Linked DNA regions of Homo sapiens. The protein of the gene in region 2 purifies or fractionates together with the protein of the main gene of each other region. This does not show direct contact. Each region holds a gene or a part of one and is shown on either strand. Other genes may lie near its edges.

Region 1 (7,991 bases), on a different chromosome or scaffold from region 2:
TGTCTATACCCCTCAGCACCACTGACTGGGCAAAGCAACGTGTTCCAGAAGGCTCCCCACATGCAGACAGTGGGGTCCATGGGGTGGCTCCTCCAAACTGCATCAGGGAATCAGGAAGGGACTGGCCTGGAGCCAAGGGGAAAGGGATGATTGCTCCTGCTGTCACCACCTAAAGAGATGGAAGAGAACACGTTATAGGACATTTTCTCAGCACTGACCCAACCCCTTACAAAGCTTCATACCTTTTTCCCACAGAAGCTCAGCATGTCAGCCAGATGAACCATGGAAACTGGAGAGGAACACAGGCGATAAGGAACAGTGACTGTGTCCAGGGCTGTAGCCAGGATGGCACTGCAGTGGAAGGGCAGAGTGGCCTGTAAGAAGACACCAAGATGGGCACTTGGCCTCAGGCCTGGAAAAGAATGTGTGGAGGCAGAATATTAACACCAGAGAGACCCAGGGGACGAATCAGGGGTATGTTTGACCCCAGGCTGGACAAGCATAGGACAGTGTGATCTGAGAGGCCACATCACAGCTGAGTTCAAGCTCGGGCCTCAAGAACAGAGCCAGTAACAGACAGCGGCTGACTGGGAGCATGAGGAGGCCCTGTAGCCTGCCGCAGTCAGAACAAGAGCACCGAGACTTACATCATAATGCAGGTAAGGGAAGCTGACAGGTGGCTCGGGTCGCAGGCCCAGGCTCCCACCCAAGGACAAGGGGCAGACAAGAGAGCTGTGAGCAGTCAGGTGCACGAGACCAAAAGCTGTGTTTAATAGACGATAGATGTTTCTCTGGGCCTCCTGGTGAAGAAAGAGTAGTTTGTATTAAGCAGCTCTCCCACTGGGATTCTGATTTCTCCCTCCCCACTGTGTGACTGTTTACTTCTCTAAGTTCCACTCACCCCACGATGGTAGGGACCAGGTAGCAGGCCCCAGGTTATTATTCCCCGCCCTGAATATTCATCTTGTAGCAGCTCTGCCGCCTTCGCGCCTACCCCAGAGAAGCCATCGTGCAGGTCACACAGGATCTGGAAGCCCTGGACGGGGGTGAGTGACAAAAGATAGTTAGCAGGATGAGAAGAGCTTCCACCCTGGAGTGCACATTGCCACGCCACTACCTGCAAGTAGTCACATTCCTCCACGTAGAAATGCAGCCTGTCCTCCAGCTCTTCCTGGTACTTGGGTTCCTTTAGGACACTTTCCCCTTGGCCAAAAGCCTCCAGCCGACCTGCTTCCCTGCCACAAGTAAACATGATCCAAGACTTACATCTCTTCCCTCAACTCCTCAGCCTCTTGTCCTGGGGAAGGGCAGGGAAGATGGCCTCAAGAGCCTCATCCTGCATTGGTGGGGACCCATGTTTCTTGCCTCAAAGCCTCTGGGGTCCCCATACCCATCGTGGTTGTACTTCTGAATCATACAGATGCTCCGGGGATGGAGATGGACTCTGAGGAAGTCTGACCAGACCCTGATGCTGGCCTCTGTAGGGATAAGTGGTTTTGGAGTTGTAGCGGTGGGGAGTGGTGAGGAACCTGAAGACAAGCAGAGGAAATGTACCTTTCTCCATGTTTCTGCTCTACCCAAGCCCCCATCCATCAGTATCTGGAGAAGTCTCACCTTTGCCATTGGGAATGGATTTGACCCTCCAGACACCATCACTACTCAGCACTCCCTGGGAGGGGTCAGAAAAATCGACATTTAGTTCCAGGCAGTTTAGAGGCAAAGGTTGCTTCGTCCTCCTTGAGTTGGCTGGCCACACCGCATAGCCTCCTTTCTGTTCACCGAGTCGCAGTCCTTAGGAAAAGGAGTGCTTTTTCCCAAAATATCATTCTAAGACACTTAAAATGATTAAAATCCCCGTTTACCTGCCCCTATGGAGACCCTCGGGTTGTGGCACCGGGTTAAAAAGTTCAGGACAGAGGCCCTCACCTCTGCACTCAGAAAGTCTTGGAGATAAGGGTTCTTGGGATAGAGTTCCTCTTTGTGTGTGGTGAGCTTCCCCTGCCTGAAAGAGTTTGGAGATTGATCAAAGAAACTGCACTCTGATCAGAGTTATCCAGCGTTCTGCGTACATACACGATCCCCACCCTTATCCATACATCAGTTACACACCATGCTATTGCAGCATCCAACTGTTTGTCCCTGTAGAGTCCACCTTCCTCTTTTAGGGAGCTCAAACTACCTGTACAGAAATAACAGAGACAATGTTAGGTCAAAGCCTGGGCACCCTTCCCCTCTAGCTAACCTTCCTCTGATCACCTGACAACCTGCTGTCACCATCTCTCCAGCACTTGGCTCTTCCAAGCTTTCTGGGATATACACTAGTTGGGGGAAAAACCTTGGCTTAGGAGAATCTAGATTCCATCTTTCGGTTCCCAGCTTAGTCATTAGCTGTGGGACGCGGGGGGAACCACATCCAGGGGTCTGACAGGAGTGCTGCAGTTCAAGTCCTCACTGTCTCCAGGGCCTAGCAGCCTATTCCCGAAATGGCTCTTGAGCAACTGTCGTGGGCCCCTCGAGTGTTGGCATGTTGTGCTCAGCTCCTCATCTCCGGTCCTGGAGCTCGGTAAGGTGGGAGGGTCTTGAAGATAACGGCAGCGCAAGGACTAGGCACGCGGAAGGGAAATAAGGGGCATCGGCTAACTCTGCCACCACCTCACCCTTCAGATCCATGAGGATGAGTCGCGGCGTGTAGGTCTCCTGGCCGTGCAGCGTCCGGCCCGTACGATACAGGACGTCGGGGCACAGCTCTCCCGGGGGCTCCTTGGAATCGGTCGCTCGGCCCAGCGCAGCATCCTGGGGAAGCAGAGAGGACGAGGCAGGCCGGCTGAACGTCGGGACTGTAGATCCCGAAGGGCTCCTCGGGGGCAGCTGCCGGCTGACCTCACCTGCTGGTTCCACCAGTGCGCGCCCACGAAACCGGCAAAATGTCCCAACTGCAGTGTGAGCACCTCCCGGGCCCCGCCCGCCATACTGCGCTGCTCCACGGGGCCGCCGCGCCTCAGCCGCGCCGCTCGCTGCTCCTAGCCGATTGGCTTGGCAGGCGCGTGGGCGGGTGTTATTCTCGGCTACTTATTGGCCCGCAAACACATCCTTTCCCATTGGAGAAACGATGCGCCGATCCCTTCCTACCTCTTCCTAGACGTGGCCCAGTCCGGCTTCTCTGTGGTTGCCTGTGAGGGGCGGGGCTCCACGGGCCACGCCGTTGCTCCTGCTCCACGTTGGAGCGGGGTGGGCGCCGTCTCCGCCGCTGACTTGGGGCCGCCAGGGCGCGGGCCGTGGAAGGCTCTGCTTCCTACTTGTCTTGAGGTCTTATCCCTTCTCACAGATCTCTCCGCTGGCTGATAGCTCCCCGGGCAAAAAGAAAACCTTGCCAGAAAAGCGGAAGCTCCCCTAAAGCCTCCCATGCCCCTTCATCTCTTCAGAAGTCACGTGGACCACGACTAATAACCTGTGGACTGGCTTAGCTATCATATCTCTATCATTTACACGTATTTATCTATCTCTGTGTATCTAACACCTTATGTAAAGAGAGTATGTATCTGTTGGCGTCTTTTGCTCAATATGGTTTATGTAATTCATATTTTTGCAAATATCTATAATTCATTTTCATCACTGCGGAATAGTCCATTGTATGAATACGCCACCACTGATCTATTCTAAAGAAAGAATAGGCTGGGCGCGGTGGTTCACGCCTGTAATCCCAGCACTTTGGGAGGCTGAGGCGGGCAGATCACGAGGTCAAGAGATCGAGACCATCCTGGCTAACACGGTGAAACCCCATCTCTACTAAAAATACAAAAAAAAATTAGCTGGGCGTGGTGGCGGGCGCCTGTAGTCCCAGCTACTCGGGAGGCTGAGGCAGGCGAATGGCGTGAACCCGGGAGGCGGAGCTTGCAGTGAGCCGAGATCACGCCAATGCACTCCATCCTGGGCGACAGAGCGAGACTCTGTCTCAAAAAAAAAAAAAAAAAAAATATATATATATATATATATATATATACTGCTGATAATAGCTTTTGGGATTGTTTCCAATTTTTGGGCTATTAGGTGCTATGATTAACATTCTTGTGTGTATTTAGAAACAAGGCAAGGGCCGGGTGCGGTAGTTTACGCCTGTAATCCCAACACTTTGGGAGGCCGAGGCAGGAGGATCAACTGAGGTCAGGAGGTTGAGACCAGCCTGGCTAACATGATGAAACCCCGGTCTCTACTAAAAATACAAAACATGTAGCCGGGCGTGGTGGCGGGCCCTTGTACTCCCAGCTGCTCAGGAGGCTGAGTCAGGGAATCATTTGAACCTGGGAGGTGGAAGTTGCAGTGAGCCGATATCACGCCACTGCACTCCAGCCTGGGAAACAAGAGCAAAACTCCTCTCTAAAAAATAAAAAATAAAAAAATAAAAATAAAAATAAAAAAGGCCGGGCGCCGCGGTTCAAGCCTGTAATCCCAGCACTTTGGGAGGCCGAGGCGGGTGGATCACGAGGTCAGGAGATCGAGACCATCCTGGCTAACACGGTGAAACCCCGTCTCTACTAAAAATACTAACAATTAGCCGGGCGTGGTGACGGGCGCGACCTGTAGTCCCAGCTACTTGGGAGGCGGAGGCAGGACAATGGCGTGAACCCGGGAGGCGGAGCTTGCGGTGAGCCGAGATCGCGCCACTGCACTCCACCTTGGGCAACAGAGCCAGACTCCATCTCAAAAAAAAAAAAAAAAAAAAAGAGATAAGGCAAATATTGGTTGGGCGCAGAGGCTCACGCCTGTATTCCCACGTTTTGGTGAGGCTGAGGCAGGAAGATCGCTTGAGTCCAGAAATTCGAGAATGTGAGGGTAGACTGGACAATGTAGTGAGACTCCCCCTCCCCCTATCCTCTCTATAAAAGAATTTTTCAAAAAATTAGCTAGGCAGCCCACATCTGTAGTCCTAACCAGAGGCTAGGGTGAGAGGATCGCTTCAGCGCAGGAATTAGAGGCTGCGGTGAACCATGATTGGAGCACTGCACTGCAGCCAGAGACAGAGGGAGACCCTGTCTCAAAATTTTAAAAAGTGACAAAATGTTAATTGAATCTAGGTGAAGATTATAGGTGTTCTTTTGCAGTACTCTCTGAGCATTCTTGTAGGTTTGAAATTTTTTCAAGAAATAAAGGTTAGATGCTCTTATCTCTTCTGAGCTCTTTGTATTTTCACATGTATTATATTTAGTTTTGTTTATTTATTTTGAGACTGTCTCACTCTCTTTGCCCTGGCTGGAGTGCAGTGGTGCAATCTCCCGGCTCACTGAAGCTTCAACCTCTTGGGCTGAAGCGATCCTCCCACCTCAGCCTCCCAAGTAGCTGCAATTACAGGCATAGGCCACTGCACCCGGCTAATTTTTGTATTTTTTGTACAGAAGGGGTTTCACCATCTTGCCCAGGCTGGTCTCCTGAGCTCAAGCGATCTGCCCACTTCGGCCTCCCAAAATATTGGGATTACAGGCGTGAGCCAATATGCCCGGCTACTATTTCACTTTTCTAAGTATGATGTGGGCTGAAAAGTTTCTATAGATACTCTGACAGTTTAAGGAAGTTCTCTGTCCTGATTTGCTAAGAGTTTTGATCATGAATAGATTTGAATGTTTTTTACAGCTTTCTCCAAACCAAGATAATTACATTATTTTATCCTTCCTTTGTTGTGCTAATGAATAAATTACATCGTTAGATTATCATGTAATACTATCTTGCATTCCTCAAATAAACCTAAACTCGGCTAGGCGCGGTGGCTCAGACCTGTAATACTAGCACTTTGGGAGGCCGAGGCAGGCGGATCACAAGGTCAGGAGTTCGAGACCATCCTGGCCAACATAGTGAAAACCCTGTCTCTACTAAAAATACAAAAATTATCTGGGCGTGGTGGCACGTGCCTGTAATCCCAGCTACTTGAGAGGCTGAGGCAGGAGAATCTCTTGAACCAGGGAGTCGGAGGTTGCAGTGAGCCAAGATCGCGCCATAGCACTCCAGCCTGGTGACAGAGAAAGACTCCAACTCAAACAAACAAACAAAAAACCTAAATTCATTTATGTTGATTATCCTTTTAAAATATTGGATCTGGCTGGGTGTGGTGGCTCACACCTGTAATCCCAGCACTTTGGGAGGCCAAGGCGGGCGGATCACGAGGTCAGAAGTTCGAGACCAGCCTGGCAAACATGGTGAAACCCCATCTCTACTAAAAACACAAAATTAGCAGGACGAGGTGGCGCGTGCCTGTAATCTCAACTACTCAGGAGTCTGAGGCAGGATAATTGCTTGAACCCGACAGGCAAAGGTTGCAGTGAGCCAAGATGGGGCCACTGCACTCCAGCCTGTGCGACAGATGGAGACTCTGTCTCAAAAAATAAATAAATATAAAATATTGGATCTGGGCCGGCTGCAGTGGCTCATGCCTGTAATCCCAGCACTTTGGAAGGCTGAGGCAGGTGGATCACTTGAGCCCAGGAGGTCAAAACAAGCCTGGGTAACATAGTGAGATCTTGTTGCTACAAAAAAAAAGGCTGGGTACGATGGCTCACACCTGTAATCCCAGCACTTTGGGAGGCTGAGGCAGGCGATCACCTGAGGTCAGGATTTGAGAACAACCTGGCCAACATGGTGAAACCCCATCTCTATTAAAAATACAAAAATTAGCTGGCAGTGGTGGCACGCGCCTGTGGTCCCAGCTCCTCGGGAGGCTGGGGCAGAAGAATCTCTTGAACCTGGGAGGCGGAGGTTGCAGTGAGCCAAGATCATGTCATTGCGCTCCAGCCTGGGAGACAGAGTGAGACTCCGTCTGAAAAGAAAAAGAAAGAAGAAGAAGAAAAAATAGAAAAAAAAAAGTTGTATCTTGGCCAGGCACAGTGGTTCTCACCTGTAATCCCCAGCATTTTGGGAGGCTGAGGCAGGCGGATCACTTAAGGCCAGGAGTTCGAGACCAGCCTGGCCAACATGGCGAGACCCCGTCTTTACTAAAAATACAAAAAAAAAAAAAAAAAAAAAAAAAAAAAAAAGGCTGGGCATGGTGGCCAGTGCCTGTAGTCCCAGCTACTCGGGAGGCTGAGGCAGGAGAATTGCTTAAACCCAGGAGGTGGAGGTTGCACTGAACTGAGATTATGCTACTGCAGTGCAACCTGGGTGATAGAGCAAGACTCTGTCAAAAAAAAGAAAAAAAAAGTTGGATCTACTTACTGATATTTTGTTTTGCATCCATATGTGTGAATGGGATTGGCTAATTTTCCTTTTCTTTAATGTTCTTGTCAGCATTTGATATTAGCATAACAGTGGCCTCAAAAACAAGTTGGGAAGTATTTTCCCTTTTCTATTTTCCACAAGAATTTATATGAGATTGGCATCATTTCTTTAAATGTTTGCTGGAGTTTACAGGCCAAGTTATATAGACCTAGAGTTGGTTATTTCTTTGTTTTTGTTTTTAAGACATTATCTGATTGTCAGCCAGGCTGGAGGGAGTGCAATGGCTGGATCAGAGCTCACTGCAGTTTGAACCCCTTAATTCAATCGATCCTCACACTTCAGCCTCCGGAGTAGCTGTGACTACATGATTTTAAACCTTTTTTGTAGAGAGGAGGTCTATGTTGCTCAAGCTGGTCACGAACTCCAGGACTCAAGCCATCCTCCCACTCTGAAAGTTCTGGGATGACAGGAGTGAACCATGCCCTGCCTGCAGTGTTTGCAGAAAAGTTTTCACCTATGAATTATTCAAGTTCTGTATTAGTATAGGAGTATTTAAAGTTTATTTTTTTGTGTCAATATTGGTAAGCCATATTTTTTTGGAAATTTGTCCATTTCATCTACAAATTCAGAGCTATTACTACCAAGTTGTTTATGGTGAACTCATTTAAACTGTTTCATGTCTGCAGGATCTGTGGTGATGTGCTTTTTTATTTTCAATATTGTTTTTGTTTTGTTTTGTTTTGTTTTGTTTTGTTTTGTGATGGAGTCTTGCTCTATTGCTTAGGCTGGAG
Region 2 (7,025 bases):
TGCAGTGCCAGGCCCCGTTGCCTTTGACATGAATGAAAAATGTGGCAGGAATCTGAATGACTCTTGCTCTTGAGTTTTTGGCAGTTGTTGGGATTACTGGCACTGAACAGTACCAGACCGAGGAAGCTCATAAGAACCAGGCTTCCAGTTAAACCCTCGAGCAGAAATAAAGCAGAGGGGTTTCAGCAAACAGCGGAACCCACTAGAGGTTGCATTTATTCATTCATCCAACAAATACCTATTAATTTGCCATGTGTCTGGCACTGTGTTATGATCTGGAACTAAAGGAGAACAGTTCAGTATAGTATAACAGTTCAGAACAGCATAATAGTTAAACTACCATGGTGAACTAAATAGGTAAAGTCCATACATTGAGAAAAGCAGAGTCAAAGTTATTCTATTCAAGATAGAAGCTAGTACTCAGTCGGGTATGGTGGCTCATGCCTGAAATCCCAGCACTTTAGGAGGCTGAGGTGGGCAGATCACCTGAGGTCAGGAGTTCAAGGCCAGGTTGGGTAACATGGTGAAACCCTGTATCTACTAAAATACAAAATTAGCCGGAAGTGGTGGTACGAGCCTATAATCTCACCTACTCGGGAGGCTGAGGCAGGAGAATTGCTTGAACCCAGGAGGCAGAGGTTGCAGTGAGCCGGGATCATGCCACTGCACTCCAGCCTGGGCAACAGAGCGAGACTCCATCTCAAAAAAAAAAAAAAAGATAGAAGCTAGTACTTGATTAGATCTAATAGTGATATTTAACAGTGAAAGATTGGTTTTTAAATGCCACAATGCTGGAGAGTAAGTGAAATAAGAATGGGAGAATTTTGATAATTACTCAATTACTGGAGCGGGGATGATATGGGCATGAGGGTTCTTTGTATCCTTCTCTCGATTTTTGTGCCTGGTTTGAAAATTCCCATAATAAATGTGGCAGGGGAGTGAGAGAGCTCCATGACTGAAGCTAGTTGTTTGCATTTTTCAACCTTTCTCTAAGTAAATATATTATATGAAAAGGCAGAATGAAGAGGAATTAGTTAATGATTTGCAATTTGCTTTTTTTTTTCTTTTTTTTTGGGATGGAGTCTTGCTCTATCGCCCAGGCTGGAGTGCAGTGGCTCGATCTCGGCTCACTGCAACCTCCGCCTTCCAGGTTCAAGCGATTCTCCTGCCTCAGCCTCCCAAGTAGCTGGGATTACAGGCGCGCCACCATGCCCGGCTAATTTTTGTATTTTTAGTAGAGACGGGGTTTCACCATGTTGGTCAGGCTGGTCTTGAACTCCTGACCTCATGATCCACCCATCTCAGCCTCCCAAAGTGCTGGGATTATAGGCGTGAGCCACCATGCCCAGCCAGCAATTTACTTTTATGATAACGATTTTGGTAATTCCTTCTGATTCTCCATGACCTGGGGAAAGTTGGCCTTGGACCCAAGCACCCTCACCATGTCAGCTTGATGAGCAGACACAGCAACTTTGTAGTCTGAAGTAGCCCTGCAATGTTAGACCAGGGGCTTTCAAACTTACATGCTTCAGGACCGCATGGAAGACAGGGGACAGTGTTTGTTAAAATACTGATGCCTGCGCCTCCTCTGAATTAGAAATATTTGAGGGTGGACCTGAACTCTGTATTTTAATAAGCACGATTTTGATGCAGGCAATCTATGGATCAAGCATTGGATGACAGTGAAAGATACCTCGATTGCTACGTGAGCAATCAAGGTCTTTTTTTTTTTTTTTTTTTTTTTTTTTTTTTTGAGATGGAGTGTCACTCTGTTGCCCAGGCTGGAGTGCAATGGCACAATCTCGGCTCACTGCAACCTCCGCCTCCCAGGTTCAAGCGATTCTCCCTGCCTTAGCCTCCTGAGTAGTTGGGACTACAGGTGCCCACCACCACGCCCAGCGAATTTTTGTATTTTTAGTAGAGACGGGGTTTCCCCATGTTGGCCAGGCTGGTTTCGAACTCCTGACCTCAGGCAATCCACCTGCTTCGGCCTCCTAAAGTGCTGGGATTACAGGCGTGAGCCACTGCACCTGGCCCTGGGTCTTTCACCAAAGCATATTTGCTCTAATTCTTGCCACAACCTTAATTTGATTTCATCTTTTCTCCTCCCACTTGCCAGCATGAATTCTTATCTATGGGATTTTATAAAGATTAAATGAAATAAAATACACTGAAAGAGCGCAGGGCCAGATGAGAAATTGTGTGTGTATAGAATATGTGATATAGTATTACTAAATGCTTCAACCGCTCTACTCTTTCATCACTTCTTTTACAACCAAGGATTTCAGTATTTTAAATGTGACCACCAGAGGTCTGTATACCTGTACCTGTCTTCCCTGAGAGAGAGCTGCACCATCACTGCGTATCCCTGTGACTCCTACCAGGATTATAGGAATGGCAAGTGTGTCAGCTGCGGCACGTCACAAAAAGAGTCCTGTCCCCTTCTGGGTAAGTCTAACCAGCAGTTTCCTCTCTGATTCACAAAGAACTAATTTTTGGTATGAATCCCAGAACCACTTTATCATGTAAAAACTGGCCCCATAATTGTATTAAAAACTTGTTTTTCTGCTGGGCACAGTGGCTCATGCCTGTAATCCCAGCACTTTGGGAGGTTGAAGCAGCTGGATCACTTGAGGTCAAGAGTTTGAGACCAGCCTGGGCAAAATGGTGAATCCCTGTCTCTACAAAAATACAAAAAGTAGCCGGGTGTGGTGGTGCGTGCCTGTAGTCCCAGCTACTCGAGAGGAGGCTTAGGTGGGAGGATCACTTGAGCCCAGGAGGTTGAGGCTGCAGTCAACTGAGATCATGCCACTGCACTCCAGCCTGGGTCACAGAGCAAGACCCTGTCTCCAAAAATAAATAAATAAAAGGTTAAAATTTAAAAAAAAATTTCTTAAAAAGAAAAAAATTTTAAAAATAGACTTTTTTTTTCTAGTCAGCTTTTTCTAGCCAATTTGTTCTTTGAACTACTCTAGTCTCCTACTAATAAACAGTGTTAGAAAGCAATGTAGACTGGGCATGGTAGCTCACGCCTGTAATCCCAGCACTTTGGGAGGCTGAGGTGGGCGAATCACAAGGTCAGGAGTTTGAGACCAGCCTGGCCAACATGGTGATATCTCATCTCTACTAAAAATACAAAAAAATTAGCTGGGCATGGTGGCGGGCGCCTGAAATCCCAGCTACTTGGGAGGCTGAGGCAGGAGAATCACTTGAACCTGGGAGACGGAGGATACAGTGAGCTGAGACCGCGCCATTGCACTCCAGCCTGGGCAACAAGAGTGAAACTCCGTCTCAAAAAGCAAACAAACAAACAAAAGAAAGAAAAAAGAAAAGAAAAGCAACTGTAGAGTATTCCATCCAGAAGGCAGTACAGCCTCCCTGGACCCTCTATTCTAGCATGGAAAAGAAGGTTACAGAAGAGTTTCCAAGCTTACCCAGGGTACAGTCACTCTACGTAGCCTGCTCCTGTGGGGACAGGAATACCCTTTCTGTGCTTACAACCTCTCTGCTGGGAGAGGGTCCACAATGAGCCCAGAGACTCTCCTGACAAGTGAACTTTTTCACAGACTCATGTCTATGTAAATGCCCTCACTCCACATTCTGGCTCTTGTGTGCACGTACAGCAGGTGGAGTGAGGTAATAGATATTGTGGAGGCTGCTTGGATATTCGCTAGGGATTAGTACAGATATTCTAGGTGGTTAGGACTTTGAAACTGGATGGTCATGAGGATTTTCTATTTTTTTTCCAAAAGGAAAAATCCAAGTTAACAACAGGGCATGGTATAGACAAGGGGTTCTCAACCTTGATTGTGCTTTAGAATCACCTAAGGAGTTTTAACACAATACTGATGCCTGGGTCCCACCCTGGATCAATTAAGGCAGAATGTGAAGGCCATTCTCTAGGGCTAGGGACAGAGGAGAGAAAGAGGGCCCTCTGGACAGCAAAAACAAAGGAGGACACTCACCTGCTTAGTGACACAGTCAGTCATGTGGCAAGCCCAGGTCTATGCAATTTAGGGGCCCCATTGTAGTTCTTCAAGAAAGCATATTGGTTTTCAAGAGTGATGCTATTTTAGGTATGAACTTGAATCTGTTTTAATCTAGAAAATGAATGTATTACTGAAAAATGTCAGTGTTATTTTTAGTCCACACCAGTGTGTGCCACACCCCACACCTCTCCACCCTGCTACTGAGAACCAGTAAAGGGGGAAAACAACTGGAGGGTCCTGTTGCCCTTCAGCTCTTAGGGACAGGGTTGGCCAGCAAGATGGGTCACCCTGCAGGCCCTCACCATGGGGGATGGAGGTGGGATGGAGTTTCTCTCAGAAGTGGTGGATACAGTCAAACTCAATGTTCTTGCTACCTCAGTTGCTTTTATGTTTGTATAATACATATTAATCTTACAATTTTTTAAACTTGTTTCATAGGCTATTATGCTGATAATTGGAAAGACCATCTAAGGGGGAAAGATCCTCCAATGACGAAGGCATTCTTTGACACAGCTGAGGAGAGCCCATTCTGCAGTGAGTGGTGAATGTGGTTGTTGGCTTTTGCCTAACTCTCATTTTGGGGATGGCTGAGTCTCAGCTTCCTGGCTACTTCTTGGCAAATAAGAGCCATGATGAAGCATCAACTTTGGAGCTGGAAGGGCCTCGGTTGACTCCTGAGTCTACCACATAATAGCTGTGGGACCTTGGTGAAGTCATTTGACTTCTCTGAGTCTCAATGTCCTGACTGGTCAAATGGGGGTAATAATGCCTGTATTCTGGGATATTAGGTTTAATCTGATGCCATTTAAAAATATTAATTTAATAAAATCTCAACAAATCAGAGTTGTTAGTTTCACTGGATGACCATTCTAATCACTAAGATCTTCCAGAAAATTGCTTGATTCCCCAAAAGACATAAAATTAAGACTAGGAAAAATCAGGTGTCAGCCATATCTACAGGTCAGTTCCAGCTCTAAAGCAAACATGATGACCCAAAGGCCTCGAGAGGTTGAGTATTCCAGATGGGAATTAAAGGGGGCAGCCAATGATTAGACGCCTTGGGAAGCAACTAGAATTTCCTTGGGCAGATGTGTTTTTCCTACAGTCTTGTACCCATTTTCACTTTCCTTGGGAACAACTATTTTATTTCATTTTATTTATTTTTTTTGAGACAGGGTCTCACTCTGTCACCCAAGTTGAAGTTCAGTGGCGCAATCTCAGCTCACTGCAATCTCTGCCTCCTGGGTTCACGCGATCCTCCTGCCTCAGGATTCCGAGTACCTGAGACTACAGGTGTGCATCACCATGCCTGGCTAATTTTTGTATTTTTAGTAGAGACGGGGTTTTGCCATGTTGGCCAGGCTGGTCTCAAACTCCTGACCTCAGGTGATCTGCCTGCCTTGGCCTCTCAAAGCGCTGGGATTACAGGCATCAGCCACCATGCCCAGGCTATGTTAATTTTTTTTTGAGACAGGGTCTTGTTCTGTCACCCAGGCTGGAGTGCAGTGGCACAATAATGGGGCACTGCAGCCTCAACCTCCTGGACTCAAGCAATCCTCCTGCCTCAGCCTCCCAAGTAGCTGGGACTTCGGGCATGCGCCACCATGCCCAGCTAACTGTTTTTTTTGTTTCTTTTAGAGACAGAATCTCACTATGTTGCATAGGCTGGTCTTGAACTCTTGGGCTCAAGCAATCCTCCTGCCTTAGTGCTGGGATTACAGGTGTGAACTTCCATGCCAGGTGTGAGCAACTCTTTTAAAAGAGCCTGGAGGCTAAGCATGGTGGCTCACGCCTGCATTCCCAGCATTTTGGGAGGCCAAGGCGGGCGGATCACTTGAGGCCAGGAGTTTGAGACCAGCCTGGCCAACATGGTGAAACCCCATCTCTACTAAAAATACAAAAACCCCAAAAACAAAATATAAAAATTAGCTGGGCGTGGTGGTGCTTGCCTGTAATCCCAGCTACCTAGAAGGCTGAGGCTGGAGAATTGCTTGAACCCAGGAGACAGAGGTTGCCGTGAACCGAGATTACGCCACTGCACTCCAGCCTGGGCAACACAGAGAGATTCTTTTAAAAAAAAAAAAAGCCTGCAGATCACTGGGTTTCCCTCTTTCTTTGGAGCCATGTGTGGCAGCCCAGGATTTGGCACCTACCTGGTCTGTATGGGGCAAGCCCCTGAGCAAGTTGGGCCATAAAATGGCAAATCCAGGACTGACCTTATTCCTTCGTGGGACTGTCATCTCCCTGATTAGTTCCTGTTGTAGCGTGTTTTAATTTTATCTTTTTTTTTTTTAAAAAAACCCATAAGACATTATTCAGGTAACATTTGTATAGATGTACCCACATATTCACCACTTTTTTTTTCTCTGAGTCTGCTGGTTAGGGAATGCCACTTTATTTTTATTATCACCCTTTCTTGCATTTTGTAAATACAGGAAAGTGTGCTGAATAATAATGGGGAGAGTCCAGAGTATGGCAGGAACTTCAAGAAAGGAGACCTGACTTAGTCTGGGGGTCAGGAAAAGCCTTCTGGAGGAATGACATTAAGTTGAAACCTAAAAGGTGGATTCACAGAGCTGGCAAAGTAAGCGTGCCCAGGTGGGTGAAGGCCCAGGAGCCTTCACAGTGCAGGGAGTGCAGGTGGTGGAGCATGATTGGGAGAAGGATGAGGAAGGCTGAGTAGGCTGGTGGACTTGGCCCAAACTGTGGAAAACCGTCTCAGCCCTGGAGGGTCTCCGAATGGCCCCTTAGTTGGTTGAGTCTAAAATGGGCAGGAATTGATGTGAACCACACTCAGCCATAAGCCCTAAGACTTCACAATACCTGGAAACACTGGTTCAACGATGATGCCTGACCATGGTGACTGGAAACCAATGAACTCTGCTATCACTCATGCCATCTTTACCAAAGAGAAGAGAAGGGAATATTAGAAACTTCTGCCCTGGATCTTTGCAGAGAAACCAGAGAGAAAGAGAAGAAGAGACTCAGTGATTAGGGAGGTTCAGTTTTTAGGAACCAGCCCTTCAGGGGATCAGT
Region 3 (7,025 bases), on a different chromosome or scaffold from region 2:
TTTAGTAGAGATGGGGTTTCACCATGTTGGCCAGGCTGGTCTCGAACTCCTGACCTCAGGTGATCCACCCACCTCAGCCTCCCAAAGTGCTGGGATTACAGGCATGAGCCACCACGCCCAGCCACCTCGGGAGTTCTGAGAGGATAACTATTAGGACATGTCCTAATATGATAAGACAGGGGTGACCCTTGAGGAAAGGGTGGGATGGTAGGGGGCTGCCTGAGGGGGAGGCACTCTAGGAAGAATGTGGGAACATGATAGATACTTCTTGGGCAGAGGCCCAAGCAAAGGATGGATAGCCTATGGTCAAGAGACCTCGGGGGATGTGGTGTCTCACACCTGTAATCCCAGTGCTTTGGGAGGCCAAGGTGGGAGGATTGCTTGAGGCCAGGAGTTCAAGACCAGCCTTGGCAACAGAGAAAAACCCCATCTCTCAAAAAAAAAATTTTTTTTGAGACAGAGTCTCACTGTTGTCGGCCCAGGCTGGAGTGCAATGGCACAATCTCGGCTCACTGCAACCTCTGCCTCCTGGGTTCCAGCAGTTCTCCTGACTCAGCCTCCCAAGTAGCTGAGATTACAGGCACCCACTACCACACCTGGCTAATTTTTGTACTTTTAGTAGAGAGGGGGTTTCACCATGTTGGTTGGCCAGGCTGGTCTCGAACTCCTGACCTCAGGTGATCCATCCATAACCTCCCAGAGTGCTGGGATTACAGGCATGAGCCACCGTGCCCAGTCAAAAATTTTTTTTCATTAGGTGGACATGGTGGTGCATGCCTGTAGTCCGTTATTCAGGAGGCTGAGGCAGGACGGTCACTTGAGGCCAGGAGTTCAAGACCAGCCTAGGCAACAGAGTGAGACCCTATCTCTATGAAAAAAAAACAAAACAAAACATTTTTTTTAATCCGGGTGTGGTGATGCAAGCCTGTAATCACAGCTACTTGGGAGGTGAGGGAGGAGAATCACTTAAAACCTGGGAGGCGGATGTTGCAGTGAGCCAAGATTGCGCCACTGCACTCCAGGCCTGGGCGACAGAGCGAGACTCTGCCTCAAAAAAAAAAAAAAATTCTTTTTAATTAGCTGGATGTGATAGTGCACACCTATAGTCCCAGTTACTCAGAAGGCTGAGGTGGGAGGATTACTTGAGCCCAGGAGTTTAAGGCAGCAGTGAGCCATGTTTGTGGCACCGCACTCCAGCCTGGGCAACAGACGGAGGGCAACAGACGGAGACGCTGTCTCTAAAAAAAAAATAAAAAGAGCTGAGTACTTGAAGCAAATGGCAGCCGACATATGGGGCCATAGGACCCCTGGTGGCTGGAGAAGCCTAGCCTCTGGGTTCCTCGGGGGAACATGGCTGGCCTTTCCTAATCCCCACGCATCAGTAGCTCAAGTCCAGGATGGAGAGTAATAATAAGGGAGACACCTAAGCCTTTGGAAACTATGTGCCCGGCCCTGGCTAACTTCACTAAACTCACAAAACCCTAAGAGAAGGGCACAGTTATCTGCTGTTTATACAAACGGGCTGAGAGATGGGGGTAGCTGGCTGGAGGTCACACATTCAGTAACTGGTAGAGCTGGAACCCAGGCCCTGGAGCCTCAGCCACTGTGCTCTCCTCCTCTGGTGAGCAGCAGGAGGGCATCTTCTCCCACGTGTGTCTGCTCCGGAACTCCCTGAGAGGATATTACTCAGACCCTATTTGGATACTACATGGGACAGGAAACTCATTCAACCTGTCTGCTTTTCCCAGTCCTAGCGGGCTAGGAGATGGACCACACTGCTTCCCCAAGCGCACAGGGCCCCCCCCACCAGGCAGGCTCACCAGCCATCCACAGCGTCCACCACCCTCCCAGAGATCTCCATCTCCCAGAGCGAGGCGAGCATGCGTTCCCGACGGTCAGGCCTGCGAGCCAGGCTGATGACAAAGACCTGGAGGAGGCAGGGGGGTGGGCGGTAAGTGCAAGGGAGCGGAAGAGGAGGGCCCATCCACCTCCTAACAGCGAGCCCACAGGCTGGGGGACTTACCTCGTCAAACCCTATCTTGCTGGGCCTCTTAGAGGGCCGAGTCACATGAGCTGAGGCCTGCATGCGGGGGCCGTCCACTGCAAAGGGAAGCACACCCCAAGCACGAGTCCCTACTGACTCCTGTTAGCAGTCACCCTGAAGTCCTAGCCCCCAGCCTCATTCCTGCCCCCTTTGGCAGAACACCCCACAGGACGGGACCTCAGAGATCACAGGATCCACCTGCCCCCATTGTAGGGATGCTAGACTAAGGCCCAACAGGGAAAGGGACTTTCTCAGAGTCATGGAACGAGTTAGGGACAAAGCTGGAACCCCAAGGCCAATGCCCGCTCCGTCCAGGGCCTAGGGAAAGGGGCACCGTGGGGAGGCAGGGAGCCCCGGCAGCAGGTGGGTGGAACAGTTCCCCAGCCCTCACCTAGTGCTTCTAAGATCAGGTGGATGAAGTTGACCCTCTCGTCTTCCAGCCCCTGGTGGGATTTCACCGGCACATTCATGTACCCATAACGGTGCTCATTGCACACGTGGACGGAGACCCCTGCAGAGACAGGCTGAGTGAGAGCTGCAGTGGAGGGTGGGGCTCTCAGAACCCAGCTGAAAGGTCCTAGGCCCAGCACTGCCAGTGACCCAACATGTCAGTCTTCTCTGGGACTCAGTTTCCCCACCTGTGGGACCAGAGGGAGAAAGGGCTTGGCTCACACAATATCTAAGGGGTCTTTCTACTGAAATGGTTCATTCATTCAATATACCTGTCCAGGGCACCCGCTGGGAGCCAGGGTTACGGCAGTGAGCAAGACTGAGTCCCTGCCCTCAGGGCATCAAGGTGAGGCAGGAGCAGACAAACTCCTACCCATCACAGCCACAGGGTGCCAGTGAGCCCCACTGCTCTGTCTCCTAAATCCCCCCACCTCTCCTGATCCCCACCACCCCACCTGGATCCAAGGGCCATCGCCTTTTCCCCACACCCCTCCACTTCACCTCACACCCTCTGGGGCTCCTCTCCACGATGTCTTTCACCTGGCAGCCAGAGTGGCCTTCCCCCGGCTTCAATATTTGTTACCTTTTTTTTTTTTTTGAGATGGAGTCCTGCTCTGTCACCGAGGCTGGAGTGCAATGGTGCGATCTTGGCTCATTACAACCTCTGTCTCCCAGGTTTGAGCAATTCTCCTGCCTCAGCCTCCTGAGTAGCTGGGAATACAGGTGTGCACCACCACATCCAGCTAATTTTTGTATTTTTAGTAGAGACGGAGTTTCGCCATGTTGGCCAGGATGGTCTCGAACTCCTGGCCTGAAGTGATCCACCCACCCTAGGCCATCCAAAGTGCTGGGATTACAGGCGTGAGCCACTGCACCCGGCCAATATTTGTTACCTTTATTATAATTATCCTCAGGGGCAGGCACACAGTGCCAATTAAAAAGCTAACCTAGGCGGGGCACAGTAGCTCACGCCTGTAATCCCAGCACTTTGGGAAGCCCAGGCAGGCAGATCATTTGAGGTCAGGAGTTCAAGACCAGCCTGGCCAACATGGTGAAACCCCATCTCTACTAAAAATACAAAAATTAACCGGCTGTGGTGGTGGCCGCCCGTAATCCCATCTACTTAGGAGGCTGAGGCAGGAGAATCACTTGAACCCGGGAGGCAGAGGTTGCAGTGAGCCAAAATCGCGCCACTGCACTCCAGCCTAGGCGACAGAACAAAGCTCTGTCTTAAAAAAAAACAAACAAAAAACAAATAAAAGCTAACCCTATTCCCAGCATTGAGCACAGAGCCTGGCCCAGAGCCGGGATGTAGTATCTGGCTGTTAGAGACTGAATTCCTTCAAACCATTGACCAATTAACAACGGCTGTCGCTTGAAGTAGGGCTAGCAAATTAAAAATAACAGAATGCTTTTGTTTCCTCTTGTGTTTTCCCCTCCAATTGTTTCACCTTCACTCACTTTTTGCACTTGGTAAGATTTCTTCTTGCATGTCTGCACACTGCAGACTTCTCCAGCACAAAACAAAGAATTACAACATCCTCCTTACCGGCTGCCACTGATTACTTGATTAAATCGTCACCTCTAATTTACCCTGAGCACCTGCAAAGTTCTTCTCCATGCACCAGATAGTCTTCAGGGTCGGAATTACATATTCTCTGCAGCCTTCTCAAGAGCTTCACTCCAACATCAGTGTCTCCACCCCTCCCTCTCATCCTCAGGACTGGATTTTTTTTTTTTTTTAAGACAGAGTCTCGCTCTGTCGCCCAGGCTGGAGTGCAGTGGCGCGATCTCGGCTCACTGCAAGCTCTGCCTCCTGCGTTCACACCATTCTCCTGCCTCAGCCTCCCGAGTAGCTGGGACTATAGGCACCCGCCACCATGCCTGGCTAATTTTTCGTATTTTTAGTAGAGACGGGGTTTCACCGTCTTAAGATGGTCTCAATCTCTTGACCTCGTGATCCACCTGCCTCGGCCTCCCAAAGTGCTTAGATTACAGGCGTGAGCCACCGCACCTGGCCAGGACTGGATTTATTCCATCCAAACCCAAACACTTTCTTACTCTCTGTTTTTTTTCAGACAGGGTCTCATCTTGTGTTGCCCAAGGTGGAGTACAGTGGCATGATCACAGTTTACTGCAGTCTCTACCTCCTGGGCTCAAGCGATCCTCCTGCCTCAGCCTCCCAGGAAGCTGGGACTACAGGCGTGGGCCAACACGCCAAGTTAATTTTTAAATTTTTTTGTAGAGATGGGATCTCGCAGCCGGGGGCGGTGGCTCACGCCTGTAATTGTAGCACTTTGGGAGGCTGCGGGGGCAGATCACTTGAGCCCAGGAGTTCAAGACCAGCCTGGGCAACACGGCAAAACCCCATCTCTACAAAAAATACAAAAATTAGCTGGGCATGGTGGTGTGCACCTGTGGTCCCAGCTACGTGGGAGGCTGAGGTGGGGGAGGTCAACACTGTAGTGAGCTGAGATTGTGCCACTGCACTCTAGCCTGGGAGCCACAGAGCAAGACTCCGTCTCAAAAAAAAAAAAAAAAAAAAAAGGCTGGGCTGGGCTCAGTGGCCCATGCCTGTAATCTCAGCACTTTGGGAGGCTGAGGCGGGCAGATCACCTGAGGTCAGGAGTTCGAGACGAGGCTGACCAACACGGAGAAACCCCGTCTCTACTAAAAACACAAAATTACCCAGGCGTGGCAGTGCATGCCTGTAATCCCAGCTACTCGGGAGGCTGAGGCAGGAGAACTGCTTGAACCCGGAAGGCAGAGGTTGCAGTGAGCCAAGATCACGCCATTGCACTCCAGCCTGGGCAACAAGAGCAAAACTCCATCTCAAAAAAAAAAAAAGGGCAGAAAAGAGATGAGGTCTTGCTATGTTGTCCAGGCTGGTCTCGAACTCCTGAGCTCAAGTGATTTCCCCTCCAGCCTCAGCTTCCCAAGACTTTGAGATTAGGGTCTGAGTCACCTTGCCTGGCCATACCCAAACTCTTTCTAGTAACTTTCATCTTGGCTGGGCGCGGTGGCTCACGCCTGTAATCCCAGCACTTTGGGAGGCCGAGGCGGGCAGATCACGAGGTCAGGAGATCGAGACCATCCTGGTTAACACGGTGAAACCCCATCTCTACTACAAATACAAAAATTAGCCGGGCGTGGTGGTGGGCGCCTGTAGTCCCAGCTACTCGGGAGGCTGAGGCAGGAGAATGGCTTGAACCCGGGAGGCGGAGCTTGCAGTGAGCCAAGATCGGCCACTGCACTCCAGCCTGGGCGACAGAGTGAGACTCTGTCCCAAAAACAACAACAACAACAACAACAAAAAACCTTTCATCTTAAAAGTAACCACTGGCTGGGCGGGTGGCTCACACCTGTAATGCCAGTACTTTGGGAGGCCGAGGCGGGTGGATCACCTGAGCTCAGGAGTTTTGAGACCAGCCTGACCAACATGGCAAAACCCCGTCTCTACTAAAAATACAAAAATTAGCTGGGTGTGGTGGCGGGTGCCTGTAATCCCAGCTACTCGGGAAGCTGAGGCAGGAAATCATTTGAACCCGGGAGGCAGAGTTTGCAGTGAGCCGAGATCACACCAAAAAAAAAAAAAAAGAGAGAGAAAAGAAAACTCATGACCCAAAGTTGTAACTCATGGGTTAACAGGATGAAATGCAGAGTAGGGAAGGGCATGGTAAGCAGCTGGAATAGCATGTGCAAATGTGCAGAGGCCTCCAAGGAATGCTAAAGGAGGGCTGGTCCTCACCAGCAGCCTGGCAGGCATAGGCGAAGACGATGATGTCGTCGAAAGGCCAAGTGTAGTTGGGATGTGGCGGGTAGAAAGCAAGCTGGTCTGCCCCTTCAGCCCGCAGGGATGCAAGGAAGGTGGAGTGGACCATGGGGACACGGAAGCAGCCCCGGCGCTGGCGGTTCTTGGTGGGGAAGTACTCGGCTGTGCGGCGGTAGTAGCCCTGGGGAAAAGGGATGCTTTGGGCTGTGAGAGGGCTCCCCTGCCCCTGCCCACAGACCCCAAGGCCTCAGGCTCTCTGCTCTCCACGTCCCTCCTTCCAGGACCTCAGTCCACCCAAGGCCCCCATCCCGGCCTCACCTGGGGGGTGATCCCACACCAGAAGTTGGAGTAGTAGGTCTGGGAGTCCAGCATTGGGGCCACCACTGGAAGCCCCTGCCCCATGAGAAGCCGCAGAGTCTGATTGTTGGTCAGAATGTTGTCTGTGTCTGCAAACTTTGAGGAGGGGACGTCACAGGCTCCAGCCCTGCCTGGGCTGCAGCCCCCCAAGGAGTTCACTGAGTGGTCCTGCCAGAGACCCAGCGTGGCTCCTAGGATCCAGTGGGAATGCTCTTACAGAGGTCTCACAAACTCAGTACATCTGTTTCTGGACCAAGGCTCTAGTCTGGGGCACTGACTCAGGGACTGGGTCCAGAGATTATACCTGAGTTACTGATCTAAGACCTTTATCTGGGATCTGGCTTAGAAAATGGATCCAAACACCTACTCTGAGCTCTAGTTCAGAGATCCAGGCTCAATTTA
Region 4 (7,577 bases), on a different chromosome or scaffold from region 2:
CTATTGGAAAATCCTTGGAAGTAGATCTGAAGTCTTCCATGAATTTGAATATCCCATGCTAGATATACAGTTTTCAAATAGGGCGGAGCTGAGATATTTGAACATTTTCTTCTCCCCATTTTCTTTCCCCCTAGACTCTGTTCCAGCCTCAGACAGGTGCCTATCAGACCCTGGCCAAAGAGTGTGTGGCCCAAGGCTGCTGTGTAGATCTCTTTCTCTTCCCTAACCAGTATGTGGATGTGGCCACACTCTCTGTTGTGCCCCAGCTCACTGGTGGCTCTGTCTACAAATATGCTTCCTTTCAGGTATGGTGTGGGATTTGGGGCAGCAGGTGGCAGCAGGGCTGGGAATATCTGCTTATATATGCAGTGGCTGACTCATTAATAGAAATAGTGTTGGGGCCAGGCACGGTGCCTCACACCTGTAATCCTAGCACTTTGGGAGGCTGAGGCAGGCAGATCACCTGAGGTCAGGAGTTCAAGACCAGCCTGGCCAACATGGCAAAACCCCATCTCTACGAAAAATACAAAAATTAGTCGGGTGTGGTGGCGGGCGCCTGTAATCCCAGCTACTCAGGAAGCTAAGAATCCCTTGAACCCGGGAGGTGGAGGTTGTGGTGAGCCGAGATTGCGCCACTGCACTCCAGCCAGAGCGACAGAGTAAGACTCCGTCTCCAAAAAAGAAGAAATAGTGTTGGAAGAGAAGACTGCATAGTCTGAAGAAGTGAGCCCGAGAATGTGGCAGTTAGGAACATGGGCCTTGGAATCAGTCCTGCATTGATATTCTGGCCCCACCACTTACTAGCTACATGACCTAGGATAAATTTCTTAAGTACTTCCTCTTTTGTTCCTTCATCTGCAAAATGGTGTTAAAATACTTAAGTAGGATTTGTCAACAGAATTAAATAATTATATGTAAAGCACTCTGTGTGGTACCTGGCATGCAGTCTAAGTGTTTAAAAGCTATTATTGTCATCATCATTATCATCCTCACTGTTATGATGATGATAATTAGGTGGCCTTGTAGAGTGGAAGGGGTACAGGGAGATTGTCTGCACGATGAGCTATGTCTAGTCAGTGACATGACTCTGGACCTGGGGGCCTGCAGGTGGAGAACGACCAGGAGCGGTTCCTGAGTGACCTGCGTCGTGATGTCCAGAAGGTTGTTGGCTTTGATGCTGTGATGCGGGTCCGGACAAGCACTGGTCAGTCCTGATTGAAGAGCAGGTTGGGGGGCTAAATATGGAAGGGAGGCATGTGGCACTTGTCATACTTTTTGCCCTGACCCTGTCCATGTGGCCTCAGGTATCCGTGCTGTAGATTTCTTTGGAGCTTTCTACATGAGCAACACGACAGATGTGGAGCTGGCTGGGCTAGATGGGGACAAAACAGTGACTGTGGAGTTCAAGCATGACGATCGGCTCAATGAAGAGAGCGGAGCTCTCCTGCAGGTGGCAGGCGGGAGGCGGGGCTGGGCAGGAAGTGTTTCATTCGCTTGGTATAGAAGAGGGTGAGGAATGGGTAGAGAGCACTAAAAGAAGAGACAGGGCACGGGAGTGGCTCATTTCTCTCTTCCAGTTTAATAGTGTAGCAAAGGGCCTTTGTGAGGGAGGGGTGTGAGTTCCCCCTTTCTCCTTTCCCCTAGTGTGCCCTGCTTTACACCAGCTGTGCAGGGCAGCGTCGGCTCCGCATCCATAATCTGGCCCTGAACTGCTGCACCCAGCTGGCTGATCTATATCGAAACTGTGAGACTGACACGCTCATCAACTACATGGCCAAGTTTGGTGAGGGTAGAAGCAGGGCAGGGTGGGATTGGGGCTGAGAGGTCCAGGATGGTGAGTGGGTAGTTGTGATGGTGGGAATGCACACATGATGGGCAGCTGACCAGTGACTATCTTTGCTTTCCCATCCAGCATATCGGGGAGTCCTGAATAGCCCTGTGAAGGCTGTTCGTGACACGCTCATCACCCAGTGTGCCCAGATCCTGGCCTGTTACAGAAAGAACTGTGCTAGCCCCTCCTCTGCAGGACAGGTGGGGCAAGTATATTAGTGGGAGGTGGGGTTGTTGGGACAAATGTTTGCATTTGGGAGGGATTTCTCATGATCATTGACTTTATTTTGATAATCCCCTCAGTTGATCCTTCCTGAGTGCATGAAGCTACTCCCAGTTTACCTGAACTGTGTGTTGAAGAGTGATGTCCTGCAGCCTGGAGCTGAAGTCACTACTGATGACCGTGCCTATGTCCGACAGCTAGTTACCTCCATGGATGTGACTGAGACCAATGTCTTCTTCTACCCTCGGCTCTTACCTTTGGTGCGATTGAGGGTTGGAGTATGAGATCTTGCACGGAGCAAAGGGCCTCTTAGGAGGAGGAAAGGATAGGCTAGTATCAGTCAGACACTAGTGGAATTTGTTTTTATGTATTTTAGCTGATGTAATTTTCACACTGAGAGAGTTACTGAGACCCCAGAAGGGGTGGTGTCTGAGGACTTAGCTTTCAAAATTTTGTGTGTGGTGCGGGGGGGCAGACTTGTCTTATGGTCCTTGGTAACCTTTTGCTCCCTTCCTTTTGTCTAGACAAAGTCTCCCGTTGAGAGTACTACCGAACCACCAGCAGTTCGAGCCTCTGAAGAGCGTCTAAGCAATGGGGATATATATTTACTGGAGAATGGGCTCAACCTCTTCCTCTGGGTGGGAGCAAGCGTCCAACAGGGTGTTGTCCAGAGCCTTTTCAGCGTCTCCTCCTTCAGTCAGATCACCAGTGGTTTGGTGAGGGCAGGGAGTCAAGGAGAATATGGGTGTGGAAGTATACTTTGTGAAACAATTGGGAGCCAATATAGTTAGTGTGCTAGTACCCTCAAATATCAGGGAACACTTGGGGACAAGGGCAGTTGCTGTCATTCTTCCCAGGTTTGCCTGTTTCAGATGATGCATACATGTATGCTGCCCCACCTTGACTGAACTCAGAGTGCCTTACCATAAGGATAAATGAATTTTGTGTTCTAGAGTGTTCTGCCAGTTCTGGATAATCCACTGTCCAAGAAGGTTCGAGGCCTCATTGATAGCTTACGGGCACAGAGATCCCGGTACATGAAGGTAACACTGATCTGAACCCTGGATTTCTTACCTTGTCAAGTCCTCACCTAGAAGTGGGGGTTGGGTGGGGAATGAGTAAGTGACTGCCTAATGAGATTTCTGGGCATGTTTAATTTCCTTTGGCCTTGCCTTATGAACCCTGAATTCTGGCCGTAGCTTACCGTGGTGAAACAGGAAGACAAGATGGAGATGCTGTTCAAGCACTTCCTGGTGGAAGACAAGAGTCTGAGTGGGGGAGCATCTTATGTGGACTTTCTCTGTCATATGCACAAGGAGATTCGGCAGCTACTGAGCTAAAGCAAGTGGGTAAATGGCATAGGGCCCAGGCTAGCTTCCAGAAAGCACCCCAGGATGTCAGAGAAATTGGGACAGTAACATATCTTATGTAAGCTGACCTCAGTCTCTCTGGGGGGAGGGGGAGATATAAGGAGACACCTTCTTTCTGGGCTCAAGTATCCTGCCACTCTGTCATGTCCTGCTGATGGAAGGTGCCCCTGTTCCCTCATTCTACCCTCTTTTTCCTGCTAATCCTGTCATAATGAATGTAGCTTCTCAGTTCACTGTATATGATTCGGTATTGGGGGTTTGGAGGCACCCAGACCCTGGCAATATTATGTGTCCCTTTGGACCAGTCTCCCAAGAGGAGAGGGGCAGGCAGGAAAGAGTGGGGATCCTAAGGTTACTACAGGGGGCTCAGTGTCATCCACAACTTCCTATATTAGGGATAAAACATATAGGTGCACAAGAGCTGGGGTATAGCCCATAGGTGGTGGAGAGAAAAGTGGTCAGTCCTTCTTGGGCCTGGAGGTTAGCAGTCAAGTTTCTCTGCTTTCACTGCTCGCTCGCTCTCTCCTGCAATGATTGATGATCACTCCGTGGATAGAGAGGCACACTGTCAGAGGTGACCGGAGAACTGAGTTGCAAAATATATTAAGATCTGGTAGAGGTACCAGCTTCCTTTCCAGCTGGAGAGGCCCCAACACTGGATGGTTCTGTAGGGAGCCTAGGGAGCCTGGTCATCAACTTGCAATACCTCACAGAGCCAGTTCACATCCCACTCTGAGCTCCCACGAGAAACACTGCTTCTCCAGGCCCGGGGTTGTTGGGGAGAGAGGCAGAGGCAGCTGGAGCGCCGTTCTCTCCTGCTGGGACACCGCTTGGGCTTTGGTATTGACTGAGTGGCTGACAGTTATCTTCCAACCCCAACTGGCTTGGGGGCAGGACAAGGGCTAGGCTTGATGGTGGCCAGGCTTGCCTGCTCCCCACCTGGGATGCCCCTGCTCTGGACCTCTCATTTCTCTTCATTGGTTTATTTTTCAATGCATCTTTAATTTGTAAAGAAATAAAATAAATTAAGATGTAACCATTAGCCTCATCTTTACTCCCGAAAGCTCACTTTGCTTTTAGTCCTGGCCGTCGGCTGAGCGAGCTGCGCATGCGCCACGTGCCCCCGTGGCGTAGGGCCTCGTCCGGTCACGACTATCCGCTGGGCGGGGTCGGTGCTGGCCGAGGGGGCGCCGGCTGCCGGAGTGGACATGGCGGCCGGCCCCATTAGGGTGGTGTTGGTCCTTCTAGGGGTGCTCAGTGTCTGTGCAGCCAGCGGCCATGGGTCCGTAGCGGAGAGGGAGGCCGGCGGGGAGGCGGAGTGGGCGGAACCGTGGGATGGCGCGGTTTTCCGGCCGCCCTCGGCGCTGGGCGCAGTGGGGGTGACGCGCAGCTCTGGGACGCCGCGGCCAGGGAGGGAGGAGGCGGGGGACTTGCCGGTACTGCTGTGGTGGAGCCCAGGGCTATTCCCCCACTTCCCGGGAGACTCGGAGCGCATCGAGTGTGCGCGCGGCGCGTGCGTGGCGTCCCGGAACCGCCGAGCGCTGAGGGACTCGCGGACGCGCGCGCTGCTCTTCTACGGCACAGACTTCCGCGCGTCGGCCGCCCCGCTGCCGCGCCTGGCGCACCAGAGCTGGGCGCTCCTCCACGAGGAGTCGCCCCTCAACAACTTCTTGCTGAGCCACGGCCCGGGCATCCGCCTCTTCAATCTTACCTCCACCTTCAGTCGCCACTCGGATTACCCGCTGTCGCTGCAGTGGCTGCCCGGGACCGCCTATCTGCGCCGCCCGGTGCCTCCGCCCATGGAACGCGCGGAGTGGCGCCGCCGCGGCTACGCGCCGCTGCTCTATCTGCAGTCACACTGCGACGTGCCAGCGGACCGGGACCGCTACGTGCGCGAGCTCATGCGCCACATCCCGGTGAGTGAGGGCGGGCCGGAGGGAAGGAAAAGGAGAGGGCGGGTTGAGGCCAGGACTCCAGGTGTCCAGGACTCCAGGTGTCCAGGACTCCAGGTGTCCAGGCCTCCAGGGCCGCACCCTCATGACAGCCTTACTGTACCCGGTCTAGGTAGACTCCTACGGGAAATGCCTGCAGAATCGGGAGCTGCCTACCGCGCGGCTACAGGACACAGCCACGGCCACCACCGAGGATCCAGAGCTCTTGGCTTTCTTGTCCCGCTATAAGTTCCACTTGGCCCTGGAAAATGCCATCTGTAACGACTACATGACAGAAAAACTGTGGCGTCCCATGCACCTGGGCGCTGTGCCCGTGTACCGCGGTTCTCCCTCTGTGAGGGACTGGATGCCGAACAATCACTCCGTCATCCTGATTGATGATTTTGAGTCTCCTCAGAAGCTGGCAGAGTTTATTGACTTTCTGGACAAGAATGATGAGGAGTATATGAAATACCTGGCATACAAGCAACCTGGGGGCATCACCAACCAATTTCTTCTGGATAGTCTGAAGCATCGGGAGTGGGGAGTGAATGATCCTTTGCTGCCTAACTACCTCAACGGCTTCGAGTGTTTCGTCTGTGACTACGAACTGGCTCGGCTGGATGCCGAGAAAGCCCACGCGGCCTCTCCCGGGGACAGCCCCGTCTTTGAGCCCCACATTGCCCAGCCCTCACACATGGACTGCCCAGTGCCCACACCTGGCTTTGGCAATGTGGAAGAGATTCCTGAGAATGACAGGTAAGAGTGCTGGGGTCCCCTGCAGCTATCAAATCATTTACTTACTTGCTTACTGTGGGCAATTAAGTAGCACTAGGTGCTGAGCAGGTGCAGGAGGAAATTATCACATGGGCTCATTCTGTATTTAAGGTGTCAACAGTCTAGTTGGGGGGATAAGACAAGCTGAAAAAGCTGAATAGATGTAAAATATAATTCAAGGCAACGTATGAAAATCAGCTTATGTGAACAATGTTTCCAGTAGTGGTTCAAAAAGATTGAACCAGAGTACAGGGCCTGTGCAGACAGGGGAGAGAGAAAATGGGGCAAATAAATAGGGACAAGGCTATAAATATCATTAATACCAGGTTCAGGAGTTTGCACTGCACTAAAAATCAACTCAGCTATTTGAGCACCTTTTATAGAGTGGAAATGGGGTTGGGCAGTAGAGAAGAGCACTTTTAGAGAGGCTTTTCTGCAGTAGTCAGGGGTTACACCTGTTAACCAGCCATAATTTTTTTTTTTAAGCGGCTGTGCTGAGGATGAGCCCCATGTAGTTGGTGCAGGTGGGGACACACTGCCTGTGTAACTAGAAAAACTAGGCATGGCCGGGCACGGTGGCTCACACCTGTAATCCCAGCACTTTGGGAGGTCAAGGGGGGAGGAACACTTGAGGCCAGAGACAATATAATATATAATATAATATATTGACCAGCCTGGACAATATAATAAGAGCCTCTCTGTACAATTTAAAAACTAAAAGCCTGGGGTGGTGGCACATACCTGTAGTCCTGGCTACTTGGGAGGCTGTGGCAGGTGGATTGCTTGAACCTAGGAGTTCAATGCTGTAGTGAGCTAGGATCGTGCCACTGCATTCCAGCCTGGGTTGGAGTAAGACCCTGTCACACACACACACACACACAAAACAATGCACAATGCGCATCAGAAGGGAAGCGAATAGGCTACTGTAGTAGGTGGCAAAAGGTGGTGGTACTGGGAAACAAGGCCAGCGTGTGGTGTGGGGTGGGAAAATGTTGAAACCACTTGTAGCAAGCCACACCTATTGGGGGAGAGGTGATAAGATTATTAAGCTGAAGTAAGGCTGCTAGAATGGCCTATAGAAACCGACTTGGACAGTGGATGGCAGCAGAAGGCCATTTATTAACAGATGCTGCTGGCAGTTTTGTCCTGATGGTTGGAATCCTTCACCAAGTAATTTGTATCTAATTACAAATTGTTTGTATCTGAACATAATATGATTTACTAGAGGAAAAGTATGAAAAAATATGAAACATTAAGAAAATAAATATTCAGGTTATGTCTTTTCTAGATACTGGATGCTACTTCATTTTGATGCACCTTCATTTTGATTATTGGCATAAAGGTGAAACTTAAAAGATAATCATCTAAAGACCCCTGCCCCCTTGCTTTCCTTATGGAGACTGCCACTTCCAGTCTGGCCTCTGCTTTGCCTGCCTCTGAACCCCC

Evidence for each region.
Region 1: the proteins of LIPH (region 2) and MSTO1 purify together in Homo sapiens (affinity purification with mass spectrometry; 3 studies listed by BioGRID and IntAct, with this or other methods). This does not show direct contact.
Region 3: the proteins of LIPH (region 2) and CERCAM purify together in Homo sapiens (affinity purification with mass spectrometry; 3 studies listed by BioGRID and IntAct, with this or other methods). This does not show direct contact.
Region 4: the proteins of LIPH (region 2) and POFUT4 purify together in Homo sapiens (affinity purification with mass spectrometry; 3 studies listed by BioGRID and IntAct, with this or other methods). This does not show direct contact.

Annotation. Positions count from the first base shown.
Region 1 is NC_000001.11:155,605,227-155,613,217, reverse strand, and holds the start of MSTO1 (protein misato homolog 1), read right to left. Parts: upstream 3,001-7,991; 5' UTR 2,970-3,000; coding exon 2,886-2,969; exon of another isoform or gene 2,794-2,885; coding exon 2,658-2,793; exon of another isoform or gene 2,180-2,657; coding exon 2,110-2,179; intron 2,003-2,109; coding exon 1,927-2,002; exon of another isoform or gene 1,863-1,926; intron 1,808-1,862; exon of another isoform or gene 1,792-1,807; coding exon of another isoform or gene 1,670-1,791; coding exon 1,615-1,669; intron 1,530-1,614; coding exon 1,391-1,529; coding exon of another isoform or gene 1,366-1,390; intron 1,298-1,365; exon of another isoform or gene 1,253-1,297; coding exon of another isoform or gene 1,236-1,252; coding exon 1,118-1,235; intron 1,037-1,117; coding exon 902-1,036; intron 801-901; coding exon 648-800; exon of another isoform or gene 584-647; intron 413-583; exon of another isoform or gene 375-412; coding exon 243-374; intron 170-242; coding exon 1-169. UniProt on the Homo sapiens protein: Involved in the regulation of mitochondrial distribution and morphology. Required for mitochondrial fusion and mitochondrial network formation.
Region 2 is NC_000003.12:185,514,565-185,521,589, reverse strand, and holds part of LIPH (lipase member H isoform 1 precursor), read left to right. Parts: intron 1-2,280; coding exon 2,281-2,448; intron 2,449-4,427; coding exon 4,428-4,523; intron 4,524-7,025.
Region 3 is NC_000009.12:128,423,832-128,430,856, reverse strand, and holds part of CERCAM (inactive glycosyltransferase 25 family member 3 isoform a precursor), read right to left. Parts: intron 6,720-7,025; coding exon 6,585-6,719; intron 6,448-6,584; coding exon 6,243-6,447; intron 2,556-6,242; coding exon 2,436-2,555; intron 2,101-2,435; coding exon 2,024-2,100; intron 1,928-2,023; coding exon 1,821-1,927; intron 1-1,820. UniProt on the Homo sapiens protein: Probable cell adhesion protein involved in leukocyte transmigration across the blood-brain barrier. Does not express any beta-galactosyltransferase activity in vitro.
Region 4 is NC_000010.11:73,767,703-73,775,279, forward strand, and holds the start of POFUT4 (GDP-fucose protein O-fucosyltransferase 4 isoform 1 precursor), read left to right. Parts: upstream 1-4,573; 5' UTR 4,574-4,631; coding exon 4,632-5,339; coding exon of another isoform or gene 5,340-5,400; intron 5,401-5,432; coding exon of another isoform or gene 5,433-5,464; exon of another isoform or gene 5,465-5,487; coding exon 5,488-6,113; exon of another isoform or gene 6,114-6,118; intron 6,119-7,577. Other genes in the region: protein transport protein Sec24C, read left to right, coding at 135-305, 1,108-1,204, 1,305-1,450, 1,645-1,783, 1,913-2,031, 2,134-2,313, 2,578-2,769, 3,007-3,096 and 1 more. UniProt on the Homo sapiens protein: Protein O-fucosyltransferase that specifically catalyzes O-fucosylation of serine or threonine residues in EMI domains of target proteins, such as MMRN1, MMRN2 and EMID1. Attaches fucose through an O-glycosidic linkage.